Homo sapiens: one gene and its partners. The protein of the gene in region 5 interacts with the protein of the main gene of each other region in a pairwise test. Each region holds a gene or a part of one and is shown on either strand. Other genes may lie near its edges.

The links.
Region 1: the proteins of SGTA (region 5) and SMAGP interact in binary tests that used the Homo sapiens proteins (3 or more experiments, as listed by UniProt).
Region 2: the proteins of SGTA (region 5) and IRF5 interact in binary tests that used the Homo sapiens proteins (3 or more experiments, as listed by UniProt).
Region 3: the proteins of SGTA (region 5) and PCDHA4 interact in binary tests that used the Homo sapiens proteins (3 or more experiments, as listed by UniProt).
Region 4: the proteins of SGTA (region 5) and PAGE3 interact in binary tests that used the Homo sapiens proteins (3 or more experiments, as listed by UniProt).
Region 6: the proteins of SGTA (region 5) and TWSG1 interact in binary tests that used the Homo sapiens proteins (3 or more experiments, as listed by UniProt).
Region 7: the proteins of SGTA (region 5) and C3orf52 interact in binary tests that used the Homo sapiens proteins (3 or more experiments, as listed by UniProt).

The regions. Positions count from the first base shown.
Region 1 is NC_000012.12:51,260,416-51,263,915, forward strand, and holds part of SMAGP (small cell adhesion glycoprotein), read right to left. Parts: intron 1-3,500. UniProt on the Homo sapiens protein: May play a role in epithelial cell-cell contacts. May play a role in tumor invasiveness and metastasis formation.
Region 2 is NC_000007.14:128,947,927-128,950,538, reverse strand, and holds the end of IRF5 (interferon regulatory factor 5), read right to left. Parts: coding exon 2,418-2,612; intron 2,330-2,417; coding exon 2,211-2,329; intron 1,967-2,210; coding exon 1,721-1,966; 3' UTR 501-1,720; downstream 1-500. UniProt on the Homo sapiens protein: Transcription factor that plays a critical role in innate immunity by activating expression of type I interferon (IFN) IFNA and INFB and inflammatory cytokines downstream of endolysosomal toll-like receptors TLR7, TLR8 and TLR9.
Region 3 is NC_000005.10:140,978,068-140,981,567, forward strand, and holds part of PCDHA4 (protocadherin alpha-4 isoform 1 precursor), read left to right. Parts: intron 1-881; coding exon 882-940; intron 941-3,500. Other genes in the region: PCDHA1 (protocadherin alpha-1 isoform 1 precursor), read left to right, coding at 882-940; PCDHA2 (protocadherin alpha-2 isoform 1 precursor), read left to right, coding at 882-940; PCDHA3 (protocadherin alpha-3 isoform 1 precursor), read left to right, coding at 882-940; PCDHA5 (protocadherin alpha-5 isoform 1 precursor), read left to right, coding at 882-940; PCDHA6 (protocadherin alpha-6 isoform 1 precursor), read left to right, coding at 882-940; PCDHA7 (protocadherin alpha-7 isoform 1 precursor), read left to right, coding at 882-940; PCDHA8 (protocadherin alpha-8 isoform 1 precursor), read left to right, coding at 882-940; PCDHA9 (protocadherin alpha-9 isoform 1 precursor), read left to right, coding at 882-940; PCDHA10 (protocadherin alpha-10 isoform 1 precursor), read left to right, coding at 882-940; PCDHA11 (protocadherin alpha-11 isoform 1 precursor), read left to right, coding at 882-940; and 4 more. UniProt on the Homo sapiens protein: Calcium-dependent cell-adhesion protein involved in cells self-recognition and non-self discrimination. Thereby, it is involved in the establishment and maintenance of specific neuronal connections in the brain.
Region 4 is NC_000023.11:55,257,915-55,261,916, forward strand, and holds the end of PAGE3 (P antigen family member 3), read right to left. Parts: intron 2,746-4,002; coding exon 2,620-2,745; intron 615-2,619; coding exon 592-614; 3' UTR 501-591; downstream 1-500.
Region 5 is NC_000019.10:2,754,215-2,756,744, reverse strand, and holds the end of SGTA (small glutamine-rich tetratricopeptide repeat-containing protein alpha), read left to right. Parts: intron 1-811; 3' UTR 812-2,030; downstream 2,031-2,530. UniProt on the Homo sapiens protein: Co-chaperone that binds misfolded and hydrophobic patches-containing client proteins in the cytosol. Mediates their targeting to the endoplasmic reticulum but also regulates their sorting to the proteasome when targeting fails.
Region 6 is NC_000018.10:9,333,564-9,337,572, reverse strand, and holds the start of TWSG1 (twisted gastrulation protein homolog 1 precursor), read right to left. Parts: upstream 2,801-4,009; 5' UTR 2,653-2,800; intron 381-2,652; 5' UTR 344-380; coding exon 221-343; intron 1-220. UniProt on the Homo sapiens protein: May be involved in dorsoventral axis formation. Seems to antagonize BMP signaling by forming ternary complexes with CHRD and BMPs, thereby preventing BMPs from binding to their receptors.
Region 7 is NC_000003.12:112,096,389-112,099,888, reverse strand, and holds part of C3orf52 (TPA-induced transmembrane protein), read right to left. Parts: intron 1-3,500. UniProt on the Homo sapiens protein: Has a role in LIPH-mediated synthesis of 2-acyl lysophosphatidic acid (LPA). LPA is a bioactive lipid mediator involved in different biological processes, and necessary to promote hair formation and growth.

The DNA of each region.
Region 1 (3,500 bases), on a different chromosome or scaffold from region 5:
ACCCAGGCTGGAGTGCAGTGGCAGAATCTCGGCTCACTGCAAGCTCCGCCTCCCAGGTTCACGCCATTCTCCTGCCTCAGCCTCCTGAGTAGTTGGGACTACAGGTGCCCGCCACCACGCCCGGCTAATTTTTTGTATTTTTTTAGTAGAGACAGGGTTTCACCGTGTTAGCCAGGATGGTCTCAATCTCCTGACCTCGTGATCCACCCGTCTTGGCCTCCCAAAATGCTGGGATTACAGGCGTGAGCCACCGCGCCCGGCCAATTTTTTTTTTTTTTTTTTTTTTTTGAGACGGAGTCTCATTCTCTGGCCCAGGCTGGAGTGCAGCGGCGTGATCTCGGCTCACTGCAACCTCTGCCTCCTGGGTTCAAGCGATTCTCCTGCCTCAGCCTCCCGAGTAGCTGGGACTACAGGCGCCCACCACCACGCCCAGCTGATTTTTTTGTATTTTTAGTAGAGACGGGGTTTCACCATGTTAGCCAGGATGGTCTCGATCTCCTGACTTCGTGATCCACCCGCCTCAGCCTCCCAAAGTGCTGGGATTACAGTATTTTTAGTAGAGAGGGGGTTTCACCATGTTGGTCAGGCTGGTCTCGAACTCCTGATCTCGTGATACACCTACCTTGGCCTCCCAAAGTGCTAGAATTACAGGTGTGAGCCACCGTGCCCAGCCTTAATTTTTTTTTTTTTTTTTTTCTGAGACGGAGTCTCACTCTGTCACCTGGGCTGGAGTGCAGTGGCTCAATCTTGGCTCACTGCAACCTCCGCCTCCCAGGTTCAAGCGATTCTCCTGCCTCAGCCTCCCAAGTAGCTGGGATTACAGGCACCCGCCACTATGCCCAGCTAATTTTTTGTATTTTTAGTAAACACAGGGTTTCACCATGTTGGCCAGGCTGGTCTCGAACTCTTGACCTTGTGATTTGCCCACCTCGGCCTCCCAAAGTGCTGGGATTACAGGCATGAGCCACCACACCCGGCCTGGGTGTCACAATTTTGAAGTGAGCAGGCAAACCATGTCAGATAAGGAAAGCTTGCAAGAGAAAGCCCAGAGAAAAAAAAGGGAGCCTAGAGCTTGAATTCTGTCTTCTAATATGCCAAGGCATGACCTGTACAAGAGAACTAACAGCAGAAACTGGGAAAGACAGATGTCTCCCCAACAGAAGGAAGAGCAAAACTGGACAAAAGCTACGTAGCATCTTGGAGAGAGAATTCTAGGACAGAATGGTTAGTTGAACTAGCTGAGCATCAGAACCCCTCTCAGCCTTAATTTTTGAATTTTTATAAATGGAAAGTGTTCTATTAGAATTCTCATTAAAATCAAATTTTAAAATAAAAAATCCAGACATACTTAGAATGTCTATCTGGAGAGGAATGATGAAATAAATTACAGGCCATCCATTGTGGAAACAGTTGCTAAAACGAATATGAGATCTACAATATTACTGGGACAGGATACATGGTTAGATGAAAAAAGCAAACTGCCAGGTGGTATATGTAGTAGGACTGCATCTTTGTTTAAAAAAAAAAAAAAAAGTAAATTGGCAGAGTGCAGTGGCTTACACCCATAATCCCAGCACTTTTGGAGGCTGAGGTGGGAGGATTGCTTGAGGCCAGAAGTTTGAGTCCAGCCTGGGCAACATAGCGAGACCCCTGTCTCTCTGTGTATTTTTTTTTAAGTAACTTTAAAAAACCCTATAAATATGCATATATATGTTTGTACATAGAAAAGGTCTAGAAAGCTGTTCTCTGAGGGGCATGTATTACCTTTCAAATAAAAGAACATGCTTGGCAAGGTGGCTTACACCTATAATCCCAGCAATTTGGGAGGCTGAGGCCAGAGGATCACTTGAGTCCAGGAGTTCAAGACCAACCTGGGCAACATGGCAAAACCCTGTCTCTACAAAAAATACAAAAATTAACTGGGCATGGTGGCACGCACCTGTGATCCCAGCTACTTGGGAGGCTGAGGTGGGAGGATCACCTGAGTCTGGGAAGGTTGAGGCTGCAGTGAGCTGTGATTGAGCCACTGCTCTACAGCCTGGGTGAAACTGAGGCCCTGTCTCAAAAAAAGAAAAAAAGGACAAACAACAACAAAATAAACTAAGTTCAGGAAAGCTGGCATAAAAGGAGGAAATGGCTTATAGCTTTTCCCCCATTCTCTCCCGTTTCTACCCCATTTTTTTGTCCAAACAAAGGAATAATTATTAAATAGCACTACAGTCTTTCCAAACCTTCCCTGCTCAGGTTCATAAGATTGAAGGCCCCACCCAAGTCCTAACCAATAGCAAATGACCTTCAAGATCTATTCTGTTCACTTACTCTTTTTTTTGTTAACCCAGATACTGGCTGGCTTCTTTGTGGTCCTTGTTCCCAGCTTGAGCTAAATCTCTTATCACTGAGGCATCAGATCTTTTGCCACCTAAGTCTGCCAGCCTACTTATTTGCTCTAGACCTGCCCAGCAGAGGGCGGCTCCCCGAGTTCTTTCCATGGGAAGCCACCCTGGGACTCGGCCCCCTTTCTTCTGCCTTCTCTTTCATGTGCACCAGCCAGTTGGGTGGAGTGAGACCTTGGGAGCAGTACACCATGACAGAAAGAACACAGGCTTGCAGTAAATCAGACTTGGCGCAAAATCCTGCCTCTGCCATTACTAGCTGTGTGACCTTGGGAAATTTTTTTAATCTTTGAAAATTTAACGGTGACTCATGCCTGTAATCCCGGCACTTTGGGAGGTCGGGGTGAGTGAATCACTTGAGATCAGAAGTTCGAGACCAGTCTGGCCAACATGGTGAAACCCTGTCTCTACTAAAAATACAAAAATTAGCTGGGCATAGTGGTGGGCGCCTATAGTCCCAGCTACTCGGGAGGCTGAGGCAGGAAAATTGCTTGAACCCGGGAGGCAGAGGTTGCAGTTAGCCGAGATTGCACCACTACACTCCAGCCTGGGTGACAAGTGGGAAATTCCATCTCAAAAAAAAAAAAAGAAAAGAAAATTCCTTAACTCCCCTGAACTTCAGTTTTTCCTTCCGTAAAATGAGACTAAAACTTGTTTCATTGGGTTGTGGTGAGGAATAAGTGCAATGAAAAATGCTGCTTTGGGAGGCTGAGATGGGAGGATCACCTGAGGCCAGGAGTTTGAGACCAGACTGGGCAACACAGTAAGACCTTATTTCTACAAAAAATTATTTTTAAAATAAAATAAAGAAAAATGCTAAGTGTCTAATACAGGGTGAGGACAACCTAGGCGGTAGCTGGTGTGATCATTTGGTGGCAAGAGATGAGCTTTACCTGGCACGGTGGGCAAAGCCCACAAGGCACAGTTCCACTCTGCCCTACTTCGAATAGGGCTGACTTATGCACTAGGCACAACAGGCACAGTGCCCTGGGCCCACAATGCTTCGAAAGGCCCATGAAAATGTTTTAAATAATTTTCATTTCTTTTATAATTAGAAGAAGGAAAAGAAACAAAATTTTAGGTCAAAGAAATATTAAGGTTGTTATG
Region 2 (2,612 bases), on a different chromosome or scaffold from region 5:
AAGAAAAGTCTAAGAAACTGTCATAGACCAGAGGAGTCTAAGGAGATGTGACAAGTGAATGTAATGTGATATCTTGGATAGTATCCTGGAACAGAAAAAGGATATCCGAAAAACTCATGAAATCCAAATAAAGAAGTTGAGTTCATAGTAATTGTCCACATGGTTTCATTATTGTCACAAGTGTGCCATAGTAATGTAAGATGTTAACAATTGGAGAAAGTGTGGGTCCATAGGAACTCTATTAGGAACTTTTCCATAAATCTAAAACCATTCTAAAATTATTTAAAAAAATCTGTACAGGCCACTTAACCATGTGAAAAGCTACTCAGCCTTGCTGATAATGAGAAGTGGCACTGAGATACTATCTCACCTGTCAGGTTGGCAAAAATCCAAACAGTGACAATATATTCTGTGGACGAGGCTGTGGGGCAAGGTATCCTTGAACATTTATGGGGGTTTAATCTATTTTGCGTTGCTGTAAACGAAGACCCGAGGCTGGGTAATTTATACAGAAAAAGGTTTATTTGGCTCACAGTTCTGATGGCTGGGCATCAAGATTGGGCATCTGCACCTGGTAAGGGCCTGGGGCAGCTTCCACTCAATGGCTGAAGGCAGAAAGTGGGCTGGAGTGTGCAGAGATGACACAGATGAAGTGAGAGCGGGTAGGTGCCAGGCTCTTTAACAACCAGCTCTGGGGGGACTAAGAGAACTCACTCACTGTCCCCACCTCGGGGGACAATATAATAAATATATTAAATATATCAGGATGATTTACATGCACTGCCCTGATATATTTAATAGCACAGGAATATACACAAGAGAGTGACAGATTTGAATGGTCCCAAATGCAGCTGCAATGCTAGCCCACCCTTTTATGGGAAAACTGATTCTGACAGTTTTCCAGACTGTGCACACATTTAAAATTCCACACCCTTGCTTCAGCCAGCTTCCTCCTGGAAGGCAAAGCCAGCCAGGTGAGTGTTTATGAAGGCCCAACTGACCCATCAGCCCAGAAGCCAGGCCCTCCCAGTGCCAATGGTCGCAAGCTGGGGGCAAGTGCTTGGGGAGTGGGCCAGTTGGCATCCGAAACAGGGCCTGGTGGAGCAGCATGGGAGCAACTGGTAGTAGTAAAAGGAAAGAAACAGCTGAGTCTGTTTTTAACATTCATTAATCCAAAAATACATAAAAATTATTTCTGCTCCAGGTTCTTGGACTCTCAAGAAGGGGGTAGCTGCCAGCCTTGAGCATCTGATATGATACCTAAGTGCTCACTCATATTATCTCAGAGGACAGGGAGATGAGGAAGTGAGTCTCAAACCAGGGAAATCAGGGCCATGCCCTGCAGAGGCCCTGTGGGGGGACTTGGCCCACAACACTCTGGCTTTTGTTGCCAGAGGAAATGGGGCAATCACAAGAGTGGGCCACCCTTAGGCAATTCCTCCTATACAGCTAGGCCCCAGGGTTGGGAGAGTTCTTTCCCTGCTCATGGCTGAATTTCCCGAGAGCCAGGCTGACCAGACCAGAGACAGCCCAGGAGAGAAAGGCCCGGGAAGGCAGGGGCTCGGGCCTTTCTCCCTCTCCTTCTTGGCCCAAATCCACTTCCAGGAAACCCAGAGGTAGGACCCTGCAGCCAGCCAGGTGCTCATCGGGGCTGTCACATCTCCACATCAGTCCGCACCGCCACCCAGGAAGCCAGGGCCAGTCACCGTCTGCAGCCTTGTTATTGCATGCCAGCTGGGTGCATAGGCCAGGGCCCCTGGCCAACACCAAGGCCTGCTCCAGGAGGGGCCTGGGCCACAGGCTGCAACCGCTGCTGGGACTGCCAGATGTGATGGAGCTCCTTGAATTGCTCCACCATGCGGTCTTTGAGGTCTGGGTTTGAGATCTGTAGCCGGATACTATCAGCTGACCAAGATAGCTCCCCTGAGAACATCTCCAGCAGCAGTCGAGCTGCTACAGGCACCACCTGGGAGGCAAAGAGGAGATGAGACAGGGAGACCTGTGGCAGGGCTGCCAGATCCAGCTGTGCATGAGGACAGCCATCAGGGGTGAGTAATAGACCGCATTCTCCGGCTCTGAGCCTTGATGGTCTCTGGCCGCCAAGTTCACACTGCTCAGGGAGCCCTGAGCCTCCAGCCTGGGGCAAGGGCCTAGCCCCAGGATTCCCCAGTTTTCAAGCCAAGGCCGACTTTGGGATAGGGGAGATGTACCTGTACAGTAATGAGCTTCTTCTCTCGGGGTTTGCGGTCAGGCCATTCTTCCCCAAAGCAGAAGAAGATCTCGAAGGGTGGTGGGGTGTTGGTCTGGCCCTTTTGGAACAGGATGAGCTCTGCATCAAAATCAAGGTCCCTAGTCAGAGGCTGGAACCATGCCCTGGGCAAGAGGCAGCCAGGAGGATCACAGCTTTGGGCCCTCACCATTGAGAAAATGCTCCAGGCTGAAAAGCTTGGTCTTGACCTCCCGCTGGATGGGGTTGGGGCATGAGTCATGGGCTGAGGCACAAGGCCCGCTCCAGAACACCTTGCACTGACACAGGCGGATGGCATAAAGGTCCTGGCCCTGTAGCTGGAGGATGAGCCCGCGGTCCAGGACATCCAGCAGCTGGTTCGTGT
Region 3 (3,500 bases), on a different chromosome or scaffold from region 5:
TCTGAGTAGCTTCTAACCAGCACATAACTCCCCCAACAGTCTTTAAGTCTTTAGGTGCCCATATTTTCCTCTTTGTTCTCCCCCTTCAGACTGAGAGTTTGTAGAGAGAGGGCAACAGATCTTTTCAATACACAACTAATGCAAAATGTATCAGGTTTTTCTTGGATTTCAGCTACTCCCTGTTAAACAATCAGAGCTTAGTGAACAGTGATTCAGTGAGGAGGGAAAGCACTCAGGAAGGAGCAGGAACAAGTACAAGTTTATGAAAAGGATTAGCTAGCAAAACAAGGTCAAACTCTGCAATAGTTTGTTTTCCTCTCCCTAGTATCCCTCTTCAATCAGAAAAGAGACTGTTATCAGTTGCTGGTGTTATGACTGGGCACATCCGCCCTGGGTCAAATATGCTGCAGTCTGCAAAGCCAGCAGCAGATTGCAGTCCTCTGCAGTCCAGCCAGGCCAGCAGAACTTGTGTAGCCATGTGCCCTGTTATAGCTGTAATACTGAATTGGGAATGTTCCCTTAATGGGGCACTTGAGGGCAAAAGCAGTGAAAGCTTTTCCTTTCTCAAAGCAGACTGTTCTTCCCGTAGTGTTTTAAGAACACAGACATGTATTGGGCAAGGCAAAGCCAAAGGTGGCCTTTACAAGATTATTAAATCTGGTCTTCCAGGGTATCTAATCTGTGTGAGGACCCTGATGAACTAATTTTCTTCTAAAGTGCTATATATGTAGATATCATCATAGAGTTACACATGAAATGGCTCATTCAATACTTTTTTAGATGCCTGGAAATATTTAAGGGAGTAACTAATCAATTAGCAGCATTCCTGGGAGAACATTGTCTTGTCATTTTAACAGAAAACTCTCTTTGTGATTTTGCAGCCACGACAGCCCAACCCTGACTGGCGTTACTCTGCCTCCCTGAGAGCAGGCATGCACAGGTATGTATTTCCCTCCTCATTCACTCAGAAGTAACCTTAACTTGGTATGGCTCAGATAAACTGCATCTCCATAGGCCAGAAGCAGCTGTCAAAACTAAAAAGCTTTAGGTACTTTGCCAGGAAAATGCAATTATTTTGTCCCCATGTTTATTCCTTGAAAGATCGCAAATGGTCAGTGCCAGATGCTTATCAAGTGCTGGCATATAAGAGTCCTCTGTAAAATCACAGAAACAGGCTGCTATGTATTTTCTCCCATCAAAATTTCTACAGGGAAGTAATTTCAACCTCCTTCATCCCTCTCTACCTATGCTTTCTTTTCCTCCTTTAAAAACTGTAATTAATACTCATGCTTTGAGACTTGGGTACATTGTGCAATGTATACATACATGTTGTCTACCTTGTTTTTTTTTTAATCTCACATTGGCTATTACATCCTATTACCCTCAATAATTGATTGCTATTGTTGTTTGTGTTCACACCTATTAGAGCCTCCTCATCTTTCCCATCTGTTGCTATCTTATTGTCATCAATGACATGGTTCTTCAGAAGATGAGCCATGTAAAGGGCTCCAAATCTAGCTTACTTTAAATTAACCTAGAGTAACGGTATTAGTCTAAGACTCAGATTAAATATAATTTTGCTTTCTCTACTTTGTCTCTCTGACAGTAATTGATTAACTACCATTATTTCTGGAGGTGATCCAGTATCCATGCCATGGGGCCAAATAAAAGATTCATTATTTGCGAATGTCTTTGGAAACCAAATGGGAAGGACCAAGAAACAAATGATCACAACTATCAAAAGGATTTAATTTTAAAGAAGAAATAATCTTCAAACTTAAGCCCCTCAAAATATCTGGGCAACTATCAAGTGAATATTCACCAAACTTAGATCAGTTCGTAAAGAGAAAGCCTACAAAGTATGTGTAGAGTTAATGTGAAATTAGTTTTAGCCCATTAAAATGCATTAGATTGAAATAAATTAACATACTCTCAAGCATTACAAATGAGCAGAAATCATTACATTGGGTGCTATTTCTGATTCAGAAGCAATCAGTGAAGGGCTGAAGATTAGTAGTTGGCTTGGTAAGATGTCACATTGGAACCTGGGTCATAATTTTAGGCCAGAAACATTCATGCATATACCAGAATATTAGGTATCAGAAGAAATTCTTTATATTTATTAGAGACCAACTTGTGCTTTTGCCTGCATCTGAGCTGTTGGTGGAGACATGCAATGGGTAAAAGCATGGTTTACAGTACCAACTCTTGAAAAGTACCAAAGCTATGAGTTGTGCCTTAAAAACTACATTTGAAATAAAACATTAAAACATAACTTCCTGGACTGGGCGCGGTGGCTCACACCTGTAATCCCAGCACTTTGGGAGGCCGAGGTGGGCAGATCATGAGGTCAAGAGATCGAGACCATCCTGGACAACACGGTGAAACCCTGTCTCTACTAAAAATACAAAAATTAGCTGGGCGTGATGGCATGTGCCTGTAGTTCCAGCTACTAGGGAGGCTGAGGCAGGAGAATCGCTTGAACCCGGGAGGCGGAAGTTGCAGTGAGCCAAGATCGAGCCACTGCACTCCAGCCTGGCGACAGTGCGAGACTCTGTCTCAGAAGAATAAATAAATGAATAAAATAACATAACTTCCTTATCCCATTTTCAAATTGAAAAAAAAAAGCCAAATGTGCTCCTATTCGGGTTTCAATTAAGATATTATGAGATTTGAGTAGGGTAAGAAATAAAATAAAAATTGAAATTAAAATGCCATTTCTTTTTTGCATTGTAATACATTGAACATATTAAATGAGTTGTGAACCTAAATAATACTAATCTTTTTCGTATGTGTGCTTGGGTGTTCTCGGTCTTTCCAGTCTTGGACATCATGTAACTATTCTTTAAAAAATTCTGCTTTGAGCTGAGCTGGCTCCAGGATAGTTACACCTTCATGAATCTGACTGAGCCCACACAATTTGCTAGTAGGATCCAGGAACACTTGAAGGCTGTTAATATTTGGGGAAAAAAAACAGATAATTCTAGAGTGTAGACAAGGGGAAGAATAGTAAAAGGTCAGAGTTTAATGAGTGAATTTCTACTGGATATGTTGTTTGAAGTCAAAGAGTGAGAAAACATTGAACTTATATGTTGCCTTCCCTCTAATAGTTCAAGTTTGCCTGCTCTGTTGCCTCATATAACCCCTTTAGTCAGTAGTCTAAATTTTATTTTAGAAATTTAACTTTCAAGATAAGCAAATGTCTAGTTTAAAAGGGTCCTCTAGTCTAGGTGTAGTGGCTCATGCCTGTAATCCCAGCACTTTGGGAGGGTGAGGCAGGTGGATCACTTGAGGTCAGGAGTTCAAGACCAGCCTGGTCAATATGGTGAAAACCTGTCTCTACTAAAAATACAAAAATGAGCCAGGCATGGTGGCGGGTGCCTGTAGTCCCAGCTACTTGGGAGGCTGAGGCAGGAGAATTGCTTGAACCTGGGAGGCAGAGGTTGCAGTGAGCTGAGATCGTGCCACTGTACTCCAGCCTGAGTGACAGAGTGAGGCTT
Region 4 (4,002 bases), on a different chromosome or scaffold from region 5:
CAGTCGATGAAAGTCAACATATATCCAAGAAGAATACTCTCAGGAAACTAGAAATAGAAGGAACTTCTGATAAAGCATATCTGCAAGTAAAATCTACAGTAAATCATGGTAAAATGTTGAATATTTTCCATTTCTTATCAGGAATAAGATGAGGGTGTCCACTATCACCAGTTCAATTCCACATTGTACTGGATGAGTCTGTCCAATGTCATAAAATGAATTAAGGAAATGAAGAGTAACATACTTTAAAAGGCAGACTGAAAAGTATTATTACTCACAGATGGCATGATTGTATATGTTGACAATCAAAAAGGACCTAGAGAGAAACTTTTGGAATTAATAAGCATATTTAGCAAGGTTTCTGGAGAGAAAAATCAATACATAAAATTATATCTCTATATACCAGCTCAAACAAAATATAAATTTTCAAAAAAGATACAATTTTCAATAGCATGAAACACCTAATTATTCCTAGTTTGACATAAGTTGCACAAGACTTCTTTGCAGACAATTGTGAAACTTTATTGAGAGAATTTTACTGGTGAAGTTTCCAACATAAAGACTGCATGTATGGTTTCAGCTTGTCTTCATTTAAACCGATGGTTGCCCTTCACCTATAAGATAAACATAATAGTTGAGAGTATTTTTTAGCAGAACTTTTTATGATGACACTACGGGTTGAAAAAAGGCATAGTTTTGGTTTTATGAAATGAACTATAACAAGGTAACCCTCTGGCTTATATCCAGTTAAACCGCTATAGAGACTTTGAAGGTAGGCTTTCAGGTATATTAACAATATTTTAAAATCCCACTCATTTTTCTAGTGTATAAGAAAGAGTTTGAGTTCGAAATGATTTGATCAAATGAACCTATTTAAAGAAAGTTTTAACTAGAAACTAAAAACTGCATGTAATTTTAGAAAAAAAAAATCCAACTAACCAAACATAAGCAAACATAAAACTTAGGAAACAAAAGAAATTTGAAATAATGTTTTGAATATAGGATAGCTCAAACAGTAATGACACATTTGAAAGTGCTTAAGTGGCATAAATAGAAAGGCTAGTATTATATTTGTTTTGTTTCTGTTATGGGAAAATGCTAAAATGTTTTTGATTAGTTTACTCTTTATATGGTTGTTTTAAGTAGGTTAACCATTTGTCTCTGTTTTCACCTGTGGTTCTAGTATAATTATCAATAATGCCTCTTTGCACAGTTAAAAATATTCCAGTTTGTCCAATAAATTATATCGTCACACTGGTTGCAAGCCATTATTATTATAGATGAAGTGTTAAAAAGAAATAGTAATGATTCTCACAATTTGGCAAAACGGGGATCAGAAGGAGAGGGAGAGGAGGAGAGAGAGAAAGAGAAGAGACTGAGGAATCTAGAAAAGCCAAATACAAATAAACAAACAATAGCTTTTTTTTTTGTTTCTAAATGATAAATACTTTTGATGGAAAATTCTGGCAAGTTTTAAAAGTTCATCCATGTTATGATGTTTAAATATTCATTTACTACTGTGGTATAGTAAATGATTTTATGTTTTGCTAGCATATCAAACATTGCATCAAATTTTGAAAATTGTTTAGAGCTCAAGAATGTATCCACTTTTAATTATATTACACATTCAATATCTGTCCTGTCTTGTTCCTATTTTTTATTGTGTATACTTGAGCTTTGCCCATTTTCTTCAACATTATGTAAACTAGGGGATCCTCTATTCATAGATATGTTGAAAATCTCTTTTATTTACTAGTTGAATTATTTCCCTTAAATAAAGACTTATACCTGTCTTTTATTAAGTATATTTTTCCTTCTCCCTTATGTTTATCTTGTGCCTTTTTCTTATTTTTTATATTGAATGCTCATATAATTTTATATTTTTATTTTTTAATAACATGTATTTAAAGCAATGATCTTCCTATGAGTATATGTTGAATAGGTTCCTGAACATAGCCTGAAAAATATTTTTAATCTAAATATTCTAATGGAATGGATCAGGAATGTAGAGCAAAAGCAGTAGACTAATGCAAGATAATTTCTTTCCTAAACACTAAGTGTTTATATTAAATTCAGAAGCTCATATAACTAATGCCTAGAAGTTTGGAAAAAACATGTGTAAAACGTACTTAAGTTGATTACTCAAATTTTAATATATTTGATTTTGACCCATTTTTATAAGAGCAAATATGGGTTTAGAAGATAAGGAATTTGCCCAAAGTCAGTGAAATTTTGTTAGAGCTTGGATTAGAGCCTACTTAATTGCCTCAGCATGTTTCATACAGTGAATATCTGTTACAAATTCATTAGGTATTTATTAAAAGCAGACCTTTATAAAAGTATCTGATATTACTAGCTGTTGGTTTAGGAACTGATACTAAAAAGTAAGAAAATACCTTCACATTTTATAATTGAATGTGGCTTTGACCCAATGTGGTAGGATCTATGATGGTGCTTGTTTATTAGTCAGGCTTTTGGGGACTGAACTATCTTTCAAAGAATCTTTATATATGAACTCTGTTAAATTATATTAGCAGTAGTGGTACCTCTATATTATAAAATATATAGTATTTTTGAAAACAGAAACCCCATAATTTGCATTTTTAATGAATAACTTACCTGCTTCTGGTATTTTAACAGGCTCCAGATTTGGCAGAAATTCTCCCTTGACATTAGGACCATCTCCACGTTCACCCCCAGTCTTTGACCGAGTCAGTTCCCAGAGATAGGCTGCCAGGCCTAGCACTTAAAAATAAAAAACATTACCAATTTAAGTTGTAAAACATAAAATATAAATAAAAGAATGATAATATTCACTCCCTCAATGTTATGAAATAAAAGCCTATAGGCTAGTGTGGTAATACACGCAATGCATAAGAATTTCAAGAACATTATTTCAGGACTCTTACCAGAAAAAGAAAACAAAATTTTCCAAATATTATCACCCTTTTCTTTTCCCACAACTGCCCCAGACAGATTAGTTGAACCCTCTGTAGGTATATGTTATTGTACTTATCATTTCAAATTAGTGATTCATTTGAGTCTGTCTAACTAGATTGTGAGCTCAAGGCTGAAATCATCTCTTTCATTAGTATTTACATCCCTAAAGCCTACATATTGCATGGCATGAGTCACTGTGAATAAGTGTTGAGTGAAAAAAAAGTATTTAAAAATACAGCCTATACTGATGAACGCTCTGCAAAACAACTGGTCCATTCTCTTAAAAAATACCAGTGTCATGAAAGACGAAGAAAGAGTGAAGAACTGGTCCAGATTAAAAAAGATTAAATAGGATTGACAACTATATGTAATGCATGATCCTGGAATCAGAAAAAAAACTATAAGGGAAATTATTAGGACAACTGGGGAAATTTGAATATAAGCTATATATTAAACAACTGCATTTTTCATTGTTGAATTCCCCAAATTTAATAAACATACAGGGGTTATCCAAGAGAATATGGCTATATAATAGAATAGTGGGTATGAAATCAATGTGGCAAAACTCTAAACATTAGTTAATCTAGGTGAAAAGCATATGAGTTGATTATAATAATCTTGCAACTTTTCTGTAAATTTTATATTTTTACAAAACATAAATTAAAAATAAAAAAGAATAAATGACAACTATGTTGGAGTTCAGGAAGACAAGAGTTATTTTTGACAACATTAACAGCAACTAGGATTGGACTTCAGACAAGACTGGGTGCATTCAGGGTGGTATGGCTGTAGATGGATTGGACTTCATGTATTTGTTTTCCTGCATTACAAAAACCTCCATTTTAAATGACATTATAAGGACAAACCACAAAACATGTGCCGTCCTTATATTTTACCATAGTGCTGTAAGGGGAATAAACATCAGCCATCCAGGAAATCAGAACTTTACACCATGGATAAGATTTAAATTACATTTAAAATATAATTTTATGAAGAATTAGCTGAATGGATTTGTAAGCGTATGACATATCTTATAGTCATGACACCCATAACCTATTGGGG
Region 5 (2,530 bases):
CTGAGTTCAGTCCTGTCCGTCTCCAGCAGACACCGGCTTCCCAGGGGTGGGAGGCTCCCCTGAGTTCAGTCCTGTCTGTCTCCAGCAGACGCCGGCTCCCTGGGGGCGGGAGGCTCCGGGCCTCCCCAGAGGTGTTTCCATTCTGCTCCCATGTGGCCTCTTCATTTTGTCGTTGTCCCCTCCTCATATACACTCTCTTTCATTTTTAAACCATAATTACTGTAGACAAATTTAAAATACAAAAATGTTAAAAAGCAGCAAGAACAATCTTAATCTTTTTTTTTTTTTTTTGAGACCGTCCTGCTCTGTCCCCCCGGCTGGAGGGCAGTGGTGCAGTCACGTCTCACTGCAGCCTCAACCTCCTGGGCTCAAGCGATCCTCCCGCCTCGGCCTCCCAAAGTGTGAGCCGTGCATTCAGCCCAACCTTAATCTTCTCACCCAGAGCCACCAACATTAATATTTTGGCCGCCTTTTCTTCCAGTCTTCCCTTTTTTTTTTAAATAAGCTTTTATTTATTTTTCCTTTTCTTTTTTTAATAGTTGAGGTGGATTTTTTACCACCGTAACCTCATACACAAAGTACCACCATACTGTAGACCCTTCTAGGTCATGGCGATGTTCTCTGCGCCACCAGCCACACGTGGCCCCGAGTGTGTGGAACGCTTCTGGTGCAGCTGTGGCTCTGACGTTCGTTGAAATAGCCGCTGTGGCCCCTGGCTGTCCACTCTGGGCCTCTCCTGCTGCCTGGAGTGTGTGGTGCAGCCTTGGTCCCCACCTGCGCTCTGACAGCCTTCATGTCTGTCCCCTTCCAGCTGCTCCCGGTGTGACCGCGTCCTTCCCTGGCCGACCCGAAGGAAGCCTTCTGGTTGTCTGCCACTTCCTCCTGTTGGACTGCCTGAGAGAGGGGAAGAGAGAGACCTCGGACCTGCATGTCAAGATGGATTTTCCCCTTTTATCTCTGCCCTCCTCCACTCCCTTTTTGTAACTCCCTTACAGCCCCCAGACCCTTCTTGAAACGAGAGCCAGCAAGCTGAGCACAGACCAGCAGCGACCTCCCTTCCAGCCCCCAGAAAGCTCGGTCACTTGAGTGTTTTCTAGAATCCTGGGGTGCTCCCGGGCCGCTCTCAGAGAAGTGGCAGGTTTCACGTTCAGCCGTGTGGCGGATCGTGTGGCTTCCAAAGCCTTTTACAGCCCCCGCCCCCCATCCCGTGGTCTGTCTGCAGGAACTCTCCCGTCTGTGAGAAGCCTCTTTCCGAGTCGACCTCCCGGCCACCCCGGCCCTGTGCCTGCTCGGAAGAGCTCACTGCCAGCTGCGGCCTGGGCACCGCGGGCCATGTGTGTTTGCATGAGGAACTCTTTAGTGGCAGACACCTAAGAGACGGCTGCGGTCACCCCACGCCTCCGCGGCTCAGGAGCCGTCCTGGGTGCATAGGACCAGTTTCTGTGACTTTTCTCCAGTTGGGCATGTTGACAGACATGTTTCCCCTCCTCCCACCCTCATTTTCTGGTCCTCGCGACTGAGAGCCAGGGGCGACATCATGACCTTCTGTCCCGGCCGCCTTAGCCCCGGGCACAGGGAAGGCAGCTGGGCCGTTTCTGTCTGTGTCCCATCCTGCTGTCCTTCTGTCCTGGATGTTTCATGGGCCCGGGGCCCCCCAGGGAAGCTTACCCCTCCTGTGCTGGGTGGAGGCCACGGGACACCTCAGGTGCCACCCACCTTGGCCCTAAAACAGCCACCAGGAAAGCAGCCGGAGAGCCGGACAGCAGGCAGCCTGTCTGGGTTCCTGAGGCCTGGGGGTGGCAGACGAGCCCACGGCGCCGTGGTCCCAGCAGCAGGGTTGTCAGTCGGAGCATCCTGGGGCTCCCTGGCTCCTGGCCGTCTGTGAGGTAGGCGCAGTACCGTGTATCGTAGGTAGCAGTAGGAACGGGGGCCGCCGCGGCCCTGCAGCCGCTCATGGCGGTGAGGTGTGTGCCAAGCCCACCCGGGGTGCAGGGCGTGACGTGTGGGGAATAAATAGGCGTTGTGACCTCTGTCTGTCTTCGTGTTGACCTTGGCGCCACCGATACCCTCCAACCCCAAACCTCGAGAAAACCCCCGACGCGGAGTTTGTGGATCAGCTGGGCTGCTTGTGAGTGAATCCCCGCGACGCCGGAGCCGCACTTCTTGGGTCACGGGTCACGGGTCATGGGAGGTTTCGGACAGTCAGCCTCTACCCTCTGCTGTCTCCCTTCCCTCCGCCTCCGTCCCCAGCTGCATCCCGGTGTAGAGGGTCACCCCAGGGTGGGGTGAGATGCCTCGGTCCTCAGCAGAGAGTGATCGTATTGTCTGTTGCTTTGCTTTGCTTTTTTTTTTTTTTTGAGACTTTCACCCTAGATGCCCAGGCTGGAGTGCAATGGCGCAATCTCGGCTCACCTCAACCTCCACCTCCCGGGTTCAAGTGATTCTCCTGCGTCAGCCTTCCAAGTAGCTGGGATTACAGGCATGCACCACCACGCCCAGCTAATTTTTTGTATTTGTAGTAGAGACGAGG
Region 6 (4,009 bases), on a different chromosome or scaffold from region 5:
TATACTCAGTATTGAACTTCTTGAATCTAACCTTGCCTATATATATTGATTGCTATGAGGGTAAAAATCCAGACCTGTGTGTCATGATTCAGTACCTCAGGCCCTGACCCAATACTCAGGTCTTACTCTATATGATATATGCACTCTATATCTGTATATAAACATAATGTTTCTGCTCTACAATATATTTTGATATTAATAAAAGTACTCTTAGTCCTACCTGAATGAGGCATTTGCTCACATCACTAGCACAGAGTGCTTTGTTACAGCTCAGTGATTCTGGAAGCCATGTCAGGAACATCAGGATGGCTAGAGTAAGCACAGCAACATAGTGTAACTTCATGTTTCTTCAAAGAAGATGATCAGTAACTCCCAGGAAACTAAACAAACAAACACAACTTTAATTCAAAGGCAAGTGCTAGGGTAAAAACAAATATAAAAATGAGAAACAAAACATAAACTAAGACTCATTGTTTGTGTCAATATACTTTTTCTTTCTTTTTTAGAGTCTTGCTCTGTTGCCCAGGCTGAAGTACAGTGGTGTGATCATAGCTCACTGCAGCCTTCAATTCCTGGGTTCAAGTGATCCTCCCACCTCAGCCTCCCAGTTATCTGGGACTACAGACAATACCACCATGCCTGGCCTTCAAAAAACTTTTGAGTGATCATTTAAAGATCATTCTCAATGAAAGATTATATAAACATTCAAAAATAAACAATAATTTTGTATAATAATGGCTTCATAGCCATCTTCAAGGACCTAGAACTCTACAGTTCCTCAGACTATCCAGAAATGGTGACTGTGAAAGTAGAGTGAGTATATCTAAACCCTCAGTAACTTGAGAGTATATCAGGCAAATAACTAGCTTCAATACTGCACTGCTACTATTCAACTTTAATTTTAGGTCCATTATTCAACTGTAAGCCCATATAAAACTATTAATATTGTATTATAATTTTAAGATATTTAATTTTAATTCTTAGAATCAAAACAAAATTTTAAATGGAAATTATTCAGGCTTATTTAGACAGAATAAAGCAGCTCAAAGCAAGAAGTAGAGTCCACAGAGTCACTTCTTAAATAATTGAGCAAATAACAAAAGGCTGTTTAATTACTAATTGCATTAAAAACTCTAGGTAATTATTAGAATGTGACGATATTCTTTTTTTTTTTTTTCTTTTAGACGTTGTCTCGCTCTGTCGCCCAGGCTGGAGTGCAGTGGCGCAATCTCGGCTCACTGCAACCTCCGCCTCCCGGGTTCATGCGATTCTCCTGTCTCAGCCTCCCGAGTAGCTGGGATCACAGGAGCCTATCACCACGCCCCGCTAATTTTTGTATTTTTAGTAGAGACGGGGTTTCACCATATTGGCCAGGCTGGTCTCGATCTCCTGACCTCAGGTGATCCACCCGCCTCGGCCTCCCAAAGTGTGGGATTACAGGGGTGAGCTACCGCGCCCGGCCAAGATATTCTTTTAATTCTATTAGTACCACACATTCTTCAAAGTTATTAAGAAGATACTACAGTTCAAAAAGAAGAAGGAAAAAAGACTAGCACAAACACAGTCTGACAGGGGCCAAACAGTATACAGTTATTAAACTTTAAATACGGGAAGATATCATTTCTTCAGGTTAAAACACCTCCCTATCAAACATAATAAATTAAAATAAATGACTACTGACGTAAGAGGGATAAATAGTGAGTTTATGGGGGCATTTATGATTACTCTAAACTTTTATTCTAAGTGTTACAAAGTACATTAAAGGAAAAATAATAAAAGGGTGAAAAGAATAAAGGGCTTTGGACCTGGTATGAGTCAATTTTGAAAGAGAAAACCCTGGTGATCGTTACTGAGGCTCACAAAGCATTCCCTAAAGACCGTTAGTAACTAATTTTCTAATGTATCTAACGCCGCATACCAAGTAGGATGATTTCTGGAGCAACCAGTACATATTTGCGGAGGCCAAATAAGGTTATTTGGAGACTAACTGTCGTGGAACTAGTTTTCATCCTACAACCATGAAAACTGGGATTTCCCCCCTTTCCCATCTTTTACGGTTGTCTTATGAAATGTTCCACAAATTCATCTTACTCCCCAAATTTCACTGGAAAAAGTATTCAAGTAACTACGACCATGTCGAAATCAGGTAATAGAATTAAAGGACTTATCTTTTCCTAAGGAGTTAGAAACCATCATGCATCAAAATTGTTTCGCATACATCACGCCCAAGTTTCTCGTTAAGGGAGATGGCACTGACAGCGACCAGGGCAGAGCCGAGCCTCTGTAGAGCGGTGCCAGGGCCCCGAAGGCGCCGGACGCCCCGCGAGGCAGAGGCCGGTAGCGGTGTGGGGGACCGGGCACCCGGAACCACCCCCACCCCGGCTCGGCCGACGCGGGCTGCGGAGGACGCGGGCCGGCCCAGAGATGGTCTGGACCAAAGCGGCGCAGAGATGCTGCTGGCTCCCGGCGTCCGGCCTGTGCGCCCGCGCCCAGCACCCCCACTTTGTCCTCCGCGCAGCCGGGCCCAGGCTTCTCCCGGCCCCCGCGAAGCTCGCCGCGGCCCCGGGCCTCTAGAGGGCCGAGCTCGGCGCCCGGCCCCTTCCCAACCAAGAGGCCAAGAGGCTGCACAACCCCCCAGCCGCTCCCACTCACCATGCGCCACGGTCCCGCGAAGTCGCCCACCCCTAGATCCCCGCCGGGTCGGCCGAGCCCGGGGCGCGCTGCGGCGGCTTTGAGTGCGAGGCCAGGCCGCGCCTCCCGCCGTCCCCTCAGCGCAGCGCCCGCGAGCCTCGGGCACCTTAAAGAGACAGGCCCGCCCGCCGCCCTCCTCCCGGCTCCTTGCTCCCCGCCCCTGCTCCCCTCTTCCCCTCCGCCCCCGCTGGGGTCCACAGCCGCCAGCTCCCGCCAGGAGGCGTCTCTCACTCCCCCGGCGCTCCTGTCAGCGCGCACGCCCCCATCTCGGCCCCGCCCACTCCCCCCGCCCCTCCCAACGCCACGCCCCCTCCGCGCCACCCGGTTTCGCCCCTCCCTCGTGCCACGCCTCCACCGCAGGCTCCCGCCCGCCCGCCGGCCCGCAGGCCACGCCCCCAGGCGCACCCACCCCAGCTGCTCAACGCGATTTCCCTTCGCGCTTCTCCGCACCGGGATCCCCAGTCCCTCAGGTTCCGACAGACCCTCCTGTCAGGCCCATTCTCCGGGCCCCCTCAGTTGCAGTGTTAAGATCAACAGTGTTAAGATTAAAGCCTTGTGATGTGCTAGCCACTACGCTGAGGATATGCCGTGTACTAAAATTCCTCAGGACTCCTCACAGCTGCCCTGTAAGGAAGCGGCCATGGCCGGGTTCTAGCGATGCGAGGCCGAGGCTCGGGGCGCTGAGTAGCCTAGCGCGTCGCCGAGGAGAGCTGGCACGTGAACCCCTTGTCGTTTGCCGTCAGAGGTAGGATTTATATAAAATGCGCGTTTCCTAGGTCTACCTCAGACCTACTGAATAAGGATCTCCAAGGGTAGAGCTTTCGAACTTCGTTCACCAATTCGATAAAACTTGCCAGGCTCCTTGTGAGTGGCTGGCGCTGAGCTCTGCATCGGAGCTCTGCATCGGGAGTCGAGAAGAGGGGGCGCCATGGATCCGGGCGCGGAGGTCGCGCAGCCTAGGTAGAAGGTGCGCGGTTAGCACGTAGGTTAAAAACATTGAGAATGACACTCAGTTCTTTCCCACAACTCTGGGTTGCTTTTTTTTTTTTTTCTTTTGAGACAAGGTCTCACTCTCACCAGGCTGGAGGGCAGTGACAACATCAGGCTCGCTGCAGCCTCCACCTCCTAGGCTCAAGCAATCCTCCCGCCTCAGCCTCCCGAGTAGCTGGGGCTACGGGCGCGCACCACCACGCCTGGCTAATATTTTATTTTTTTGTAGATATGGAGGTCTTGCTATGTTGCCCAAGCTGGTTTCAAATTTCGGGGCTCAAGCGATCCTCCCACCGCGGTCTCCTAAATCGTTGGGATGACAGGTGTG
Region 7 (3,500 bases), on a different chromosome or scaffold from region 5:
ATGAAAACCAACATGCATAAAGTATCCTGCATGGTGCCTTGTAGTAAGTGGGAAAGTTGCTATCAAGACACTACCAAGGAATAACTGGTAAGATTTGGCCATTATCTAGATATGAGAAAGAAGAAATCAAAAAGGTTTCCAAGATATCAAGCCCAGGAACAGGAAGAATAATAGCTACTGTATTAAGTATGACGTGCAAACATTCTACTATGCACCTTATGAATATATTTTCCTCACATAATCCTCACATTAACCCAATGAGTTAAATATTGTTGTTTTCATTTTTAAATGAAGACACTGAGGCTTAGAGAAAATGCATAATTTGTTCAGGTCAATGAATTAGCATGTATTAGGGTCAAGGTATATTTATAGACTCAGATTCCGAAATCCTTTACATTTTATAAATGGGAAAACAGGCCCAGAGGCTTGACAAGTTTGCCTAAAGTTACACAATTGGATAGTAGCAGAACTAAAATAAACTTGGTCTTATATAAAGGGTGAGTGAATGGGGAAAAGATGAACAAATTGGGATGAAGGATATGTTATGGTCTGAATGTTTGTGTCTCCCCGAAAAATGCATATGTTGAAATCTAACCACCAATGTGAGCGTGTATTAGTCCATTCTCACACTGCTATAAAGAACTACCTGAGACTGGGCAATTTATGAAGAAAAGAGGTTTAATTGTCTTACAGTTCTGCGGGCTTAACAGGAAGCAAGGATGGGAGCCCTCAGGAAACTTACAATTATAGCAGAAGGCTCAGGGGAAACAAGCATGTCTTACCATGGGGGAGCAGGAGAGAGAGAGAAAGAGCAAACAACAAAGAGCCACACACTTTTAAACCATCAGATCTCATGAGAATTCACACACTATCATGAGAATAGCAAAGGGGAAATCTACCCCCATGATCCAATCACCTCCCACCAGGCCCCTCTTATCATTCAACATGAGATTTGGGCAGGGACACAAATCCAAACAATATCAGATGGTCTTAGAGGGTGGGGCCTTTGGGAGGTGATTAGATCATGAGGGGAGAGCACTTTTGAATGGTATTAGTGCCCTTATAAAAGAGGCCCAGAAAGCTGCCTTTCCCCTTATACCATAGAAGATATAGCTAGAAGGCATGATCTACGAAATAAAAAGTGTGCCCTCACCAGACAGCAAATGTGTGCTGACACTTTGATCTTGGAGTTCCCAGCCTCCAGAACTGTAAGCAATAAATTTCTGTTATGTATAAGCTACCTAGTTTATGATATTCTGTTATAGTAGCCCAAGCAGACTAAAATAGCATACAAACAAATGGTAGTTTCACATGTATAATAATTGAGATGATGACAGTTATTTTTAGATAAATATCTCTAGCCAAGAGTACTTCCAAAACTCAGGAAAATTGTACAGATGTAGATCTAGGAGTCACCTTCTTGGAGGCATGGCTGCTGTCCTGGGAGTGAATGAGCTCTCCAAGAAAAAGAATGAAGAATGTGAAAAGTCACGAAGCTGAAGAGAAGCCTCATGAACCCACAATGCAGATGCCAAGAGCAAAAATAGCAAAATCAACCTAAAGTCCAGGAGTTCTATAGACTCAGAAGAGTATAATGAAGTTGGCAGAGCTAAAAGCTGACAATAAGGCAGGAGACAGAGAAATGTTGGCTTCCACGATCAGACAATTGCTAGTAATCTTGGGAAGAAAAATTGGGAACCAATAGATACAAGAGGTTTGGGAGTCTGCAGGAGGCAAGATTCAAATGCAGACCTTTCTTTCTGGAAGTGTGCCAGTGAAAGAAGGGAGAGAAAAACACATATCTAAATGAAGTAGCAAGAATCCTGATGGAAGATTGCTTTGAAGGAGAGAGGATGCTAGTGCATTTGAAGAGTTAACCCATTTATACCTGAGGTTGAACTTTTCGAATTTTTGCATTCAGACTTTGGTGATGACCTTGAGCAGTAAGATATAAATAACTTCTACATGATTAGCATTCCAATAATGGAACACTAGGCATAAATTAAGAAGAACCTGAGGATGCTTAGAGAGAGGAGGAGATATCTGAAGATCTCTGGGTCAGAGGAAGCTGAAAGATATTATATGGAGACCACAGGTAAGGGTGTCCATCTTGGTAGAGAAACATCAGCGATTTGAAGAAAAGATAAACAGGTGAAAATGGAAAGAAATTTCAAGGTACTGGGTCTAGCACTGCTCTCATGTTCCTGCCCCAAAGGACCTTGGCAGCTTATAGCTTGTTAATGCTGTCTGCCTAGGATTTTCCCATGAGTCACCCTACACCAGGGAGCATTACCCTGTGAAAACTGTCAGTCTGCCAGAACCACATGACATCATAAAATGTAGCTCTTATTCACAACTGAAAGGCAAACAAATCCACTCAACACAACGTCACTTAGGAAGTCGTTGCTTATATCTCAGTACCACAGCGTTCCTACTCATAAAAGGTGTATAAATTAAGAGATTAGGGTCAGGCAAGAATCTGGGGTATAATGTTGGGGGATATCACATGAGGGTCTCCAGGATGTTATCAATTTAAATCATGTTTCTAAGCATCCACCTACTTGTCACAGTTTTGTTTTTGAAATATTTAAAATATTTTGCCCCAACCAAAACTTCATTAGTAAAGTGTTATTCAGGGTCTCACCTCTCCATGACTAGGGTGAATTATTGAAGAAAGGAGAACCCTTGAGAACACTCAACTGATCCTCCAAATTATCCAGAAAGAAAATGACTTTGAGAAAAAGATGAAGGCTTTTGTTTCTGTACCTTTCAAATCAAGAAATTTATAATTCCTTATGAGGAAGGAAAGAATCCATTAATACCTTTTCCCTAAAGAGTCTCAAATAACAGAATTCCCTGGGTTCCACTCATAAAAATGGACATTAAAAAAATTTCCATGTCGATTGTGAGTCTGGTGGACAGGTAGCCTCTTTTCCCTAGCACATACAAAGCCCCTACTCAGTGCTTTAAGCTAAGCCATGATCCTGAATTTGTCATTCTTCAATGGCATACAAGGGAAGAGTAGTGGGCAAGCCCAACCCATGTACAGGCAATGAAGGCTGCACAGTCTGTAGAGAATGAGCAGCAATAATAAAACCTACTACAAGTTGGTCTGCTTTTATTATCACCACATGCTGACAATTCTTAATTCGAGTGAAAAAATATAACTCCCCACTGGACACCCTGCCCTGGGTACCCAGGTGTCCCCTCCCCAACTTTCTGTTCTGAGATGCTTTCACTGTCCCATTTTATGTCCACCCCAACTGCACAGTTTTGAAGGCTAAAGAAATTCCGTCTTAGTTATTATTTCACTGTATTAACTTCTGATTAATCCCAGCTCTGGAAATGCCTCTAAGATTTCTATTTCATCTACTGTTGCATGTATAAGAGCACATACTTACCATAAATCTCACCCTCAGGTCTAAACAACCTTAACGTTATCTACATGCCATAAATCTTGCCCTTATGCAATTATAAAACACATCCCTTCTGAAGCATGC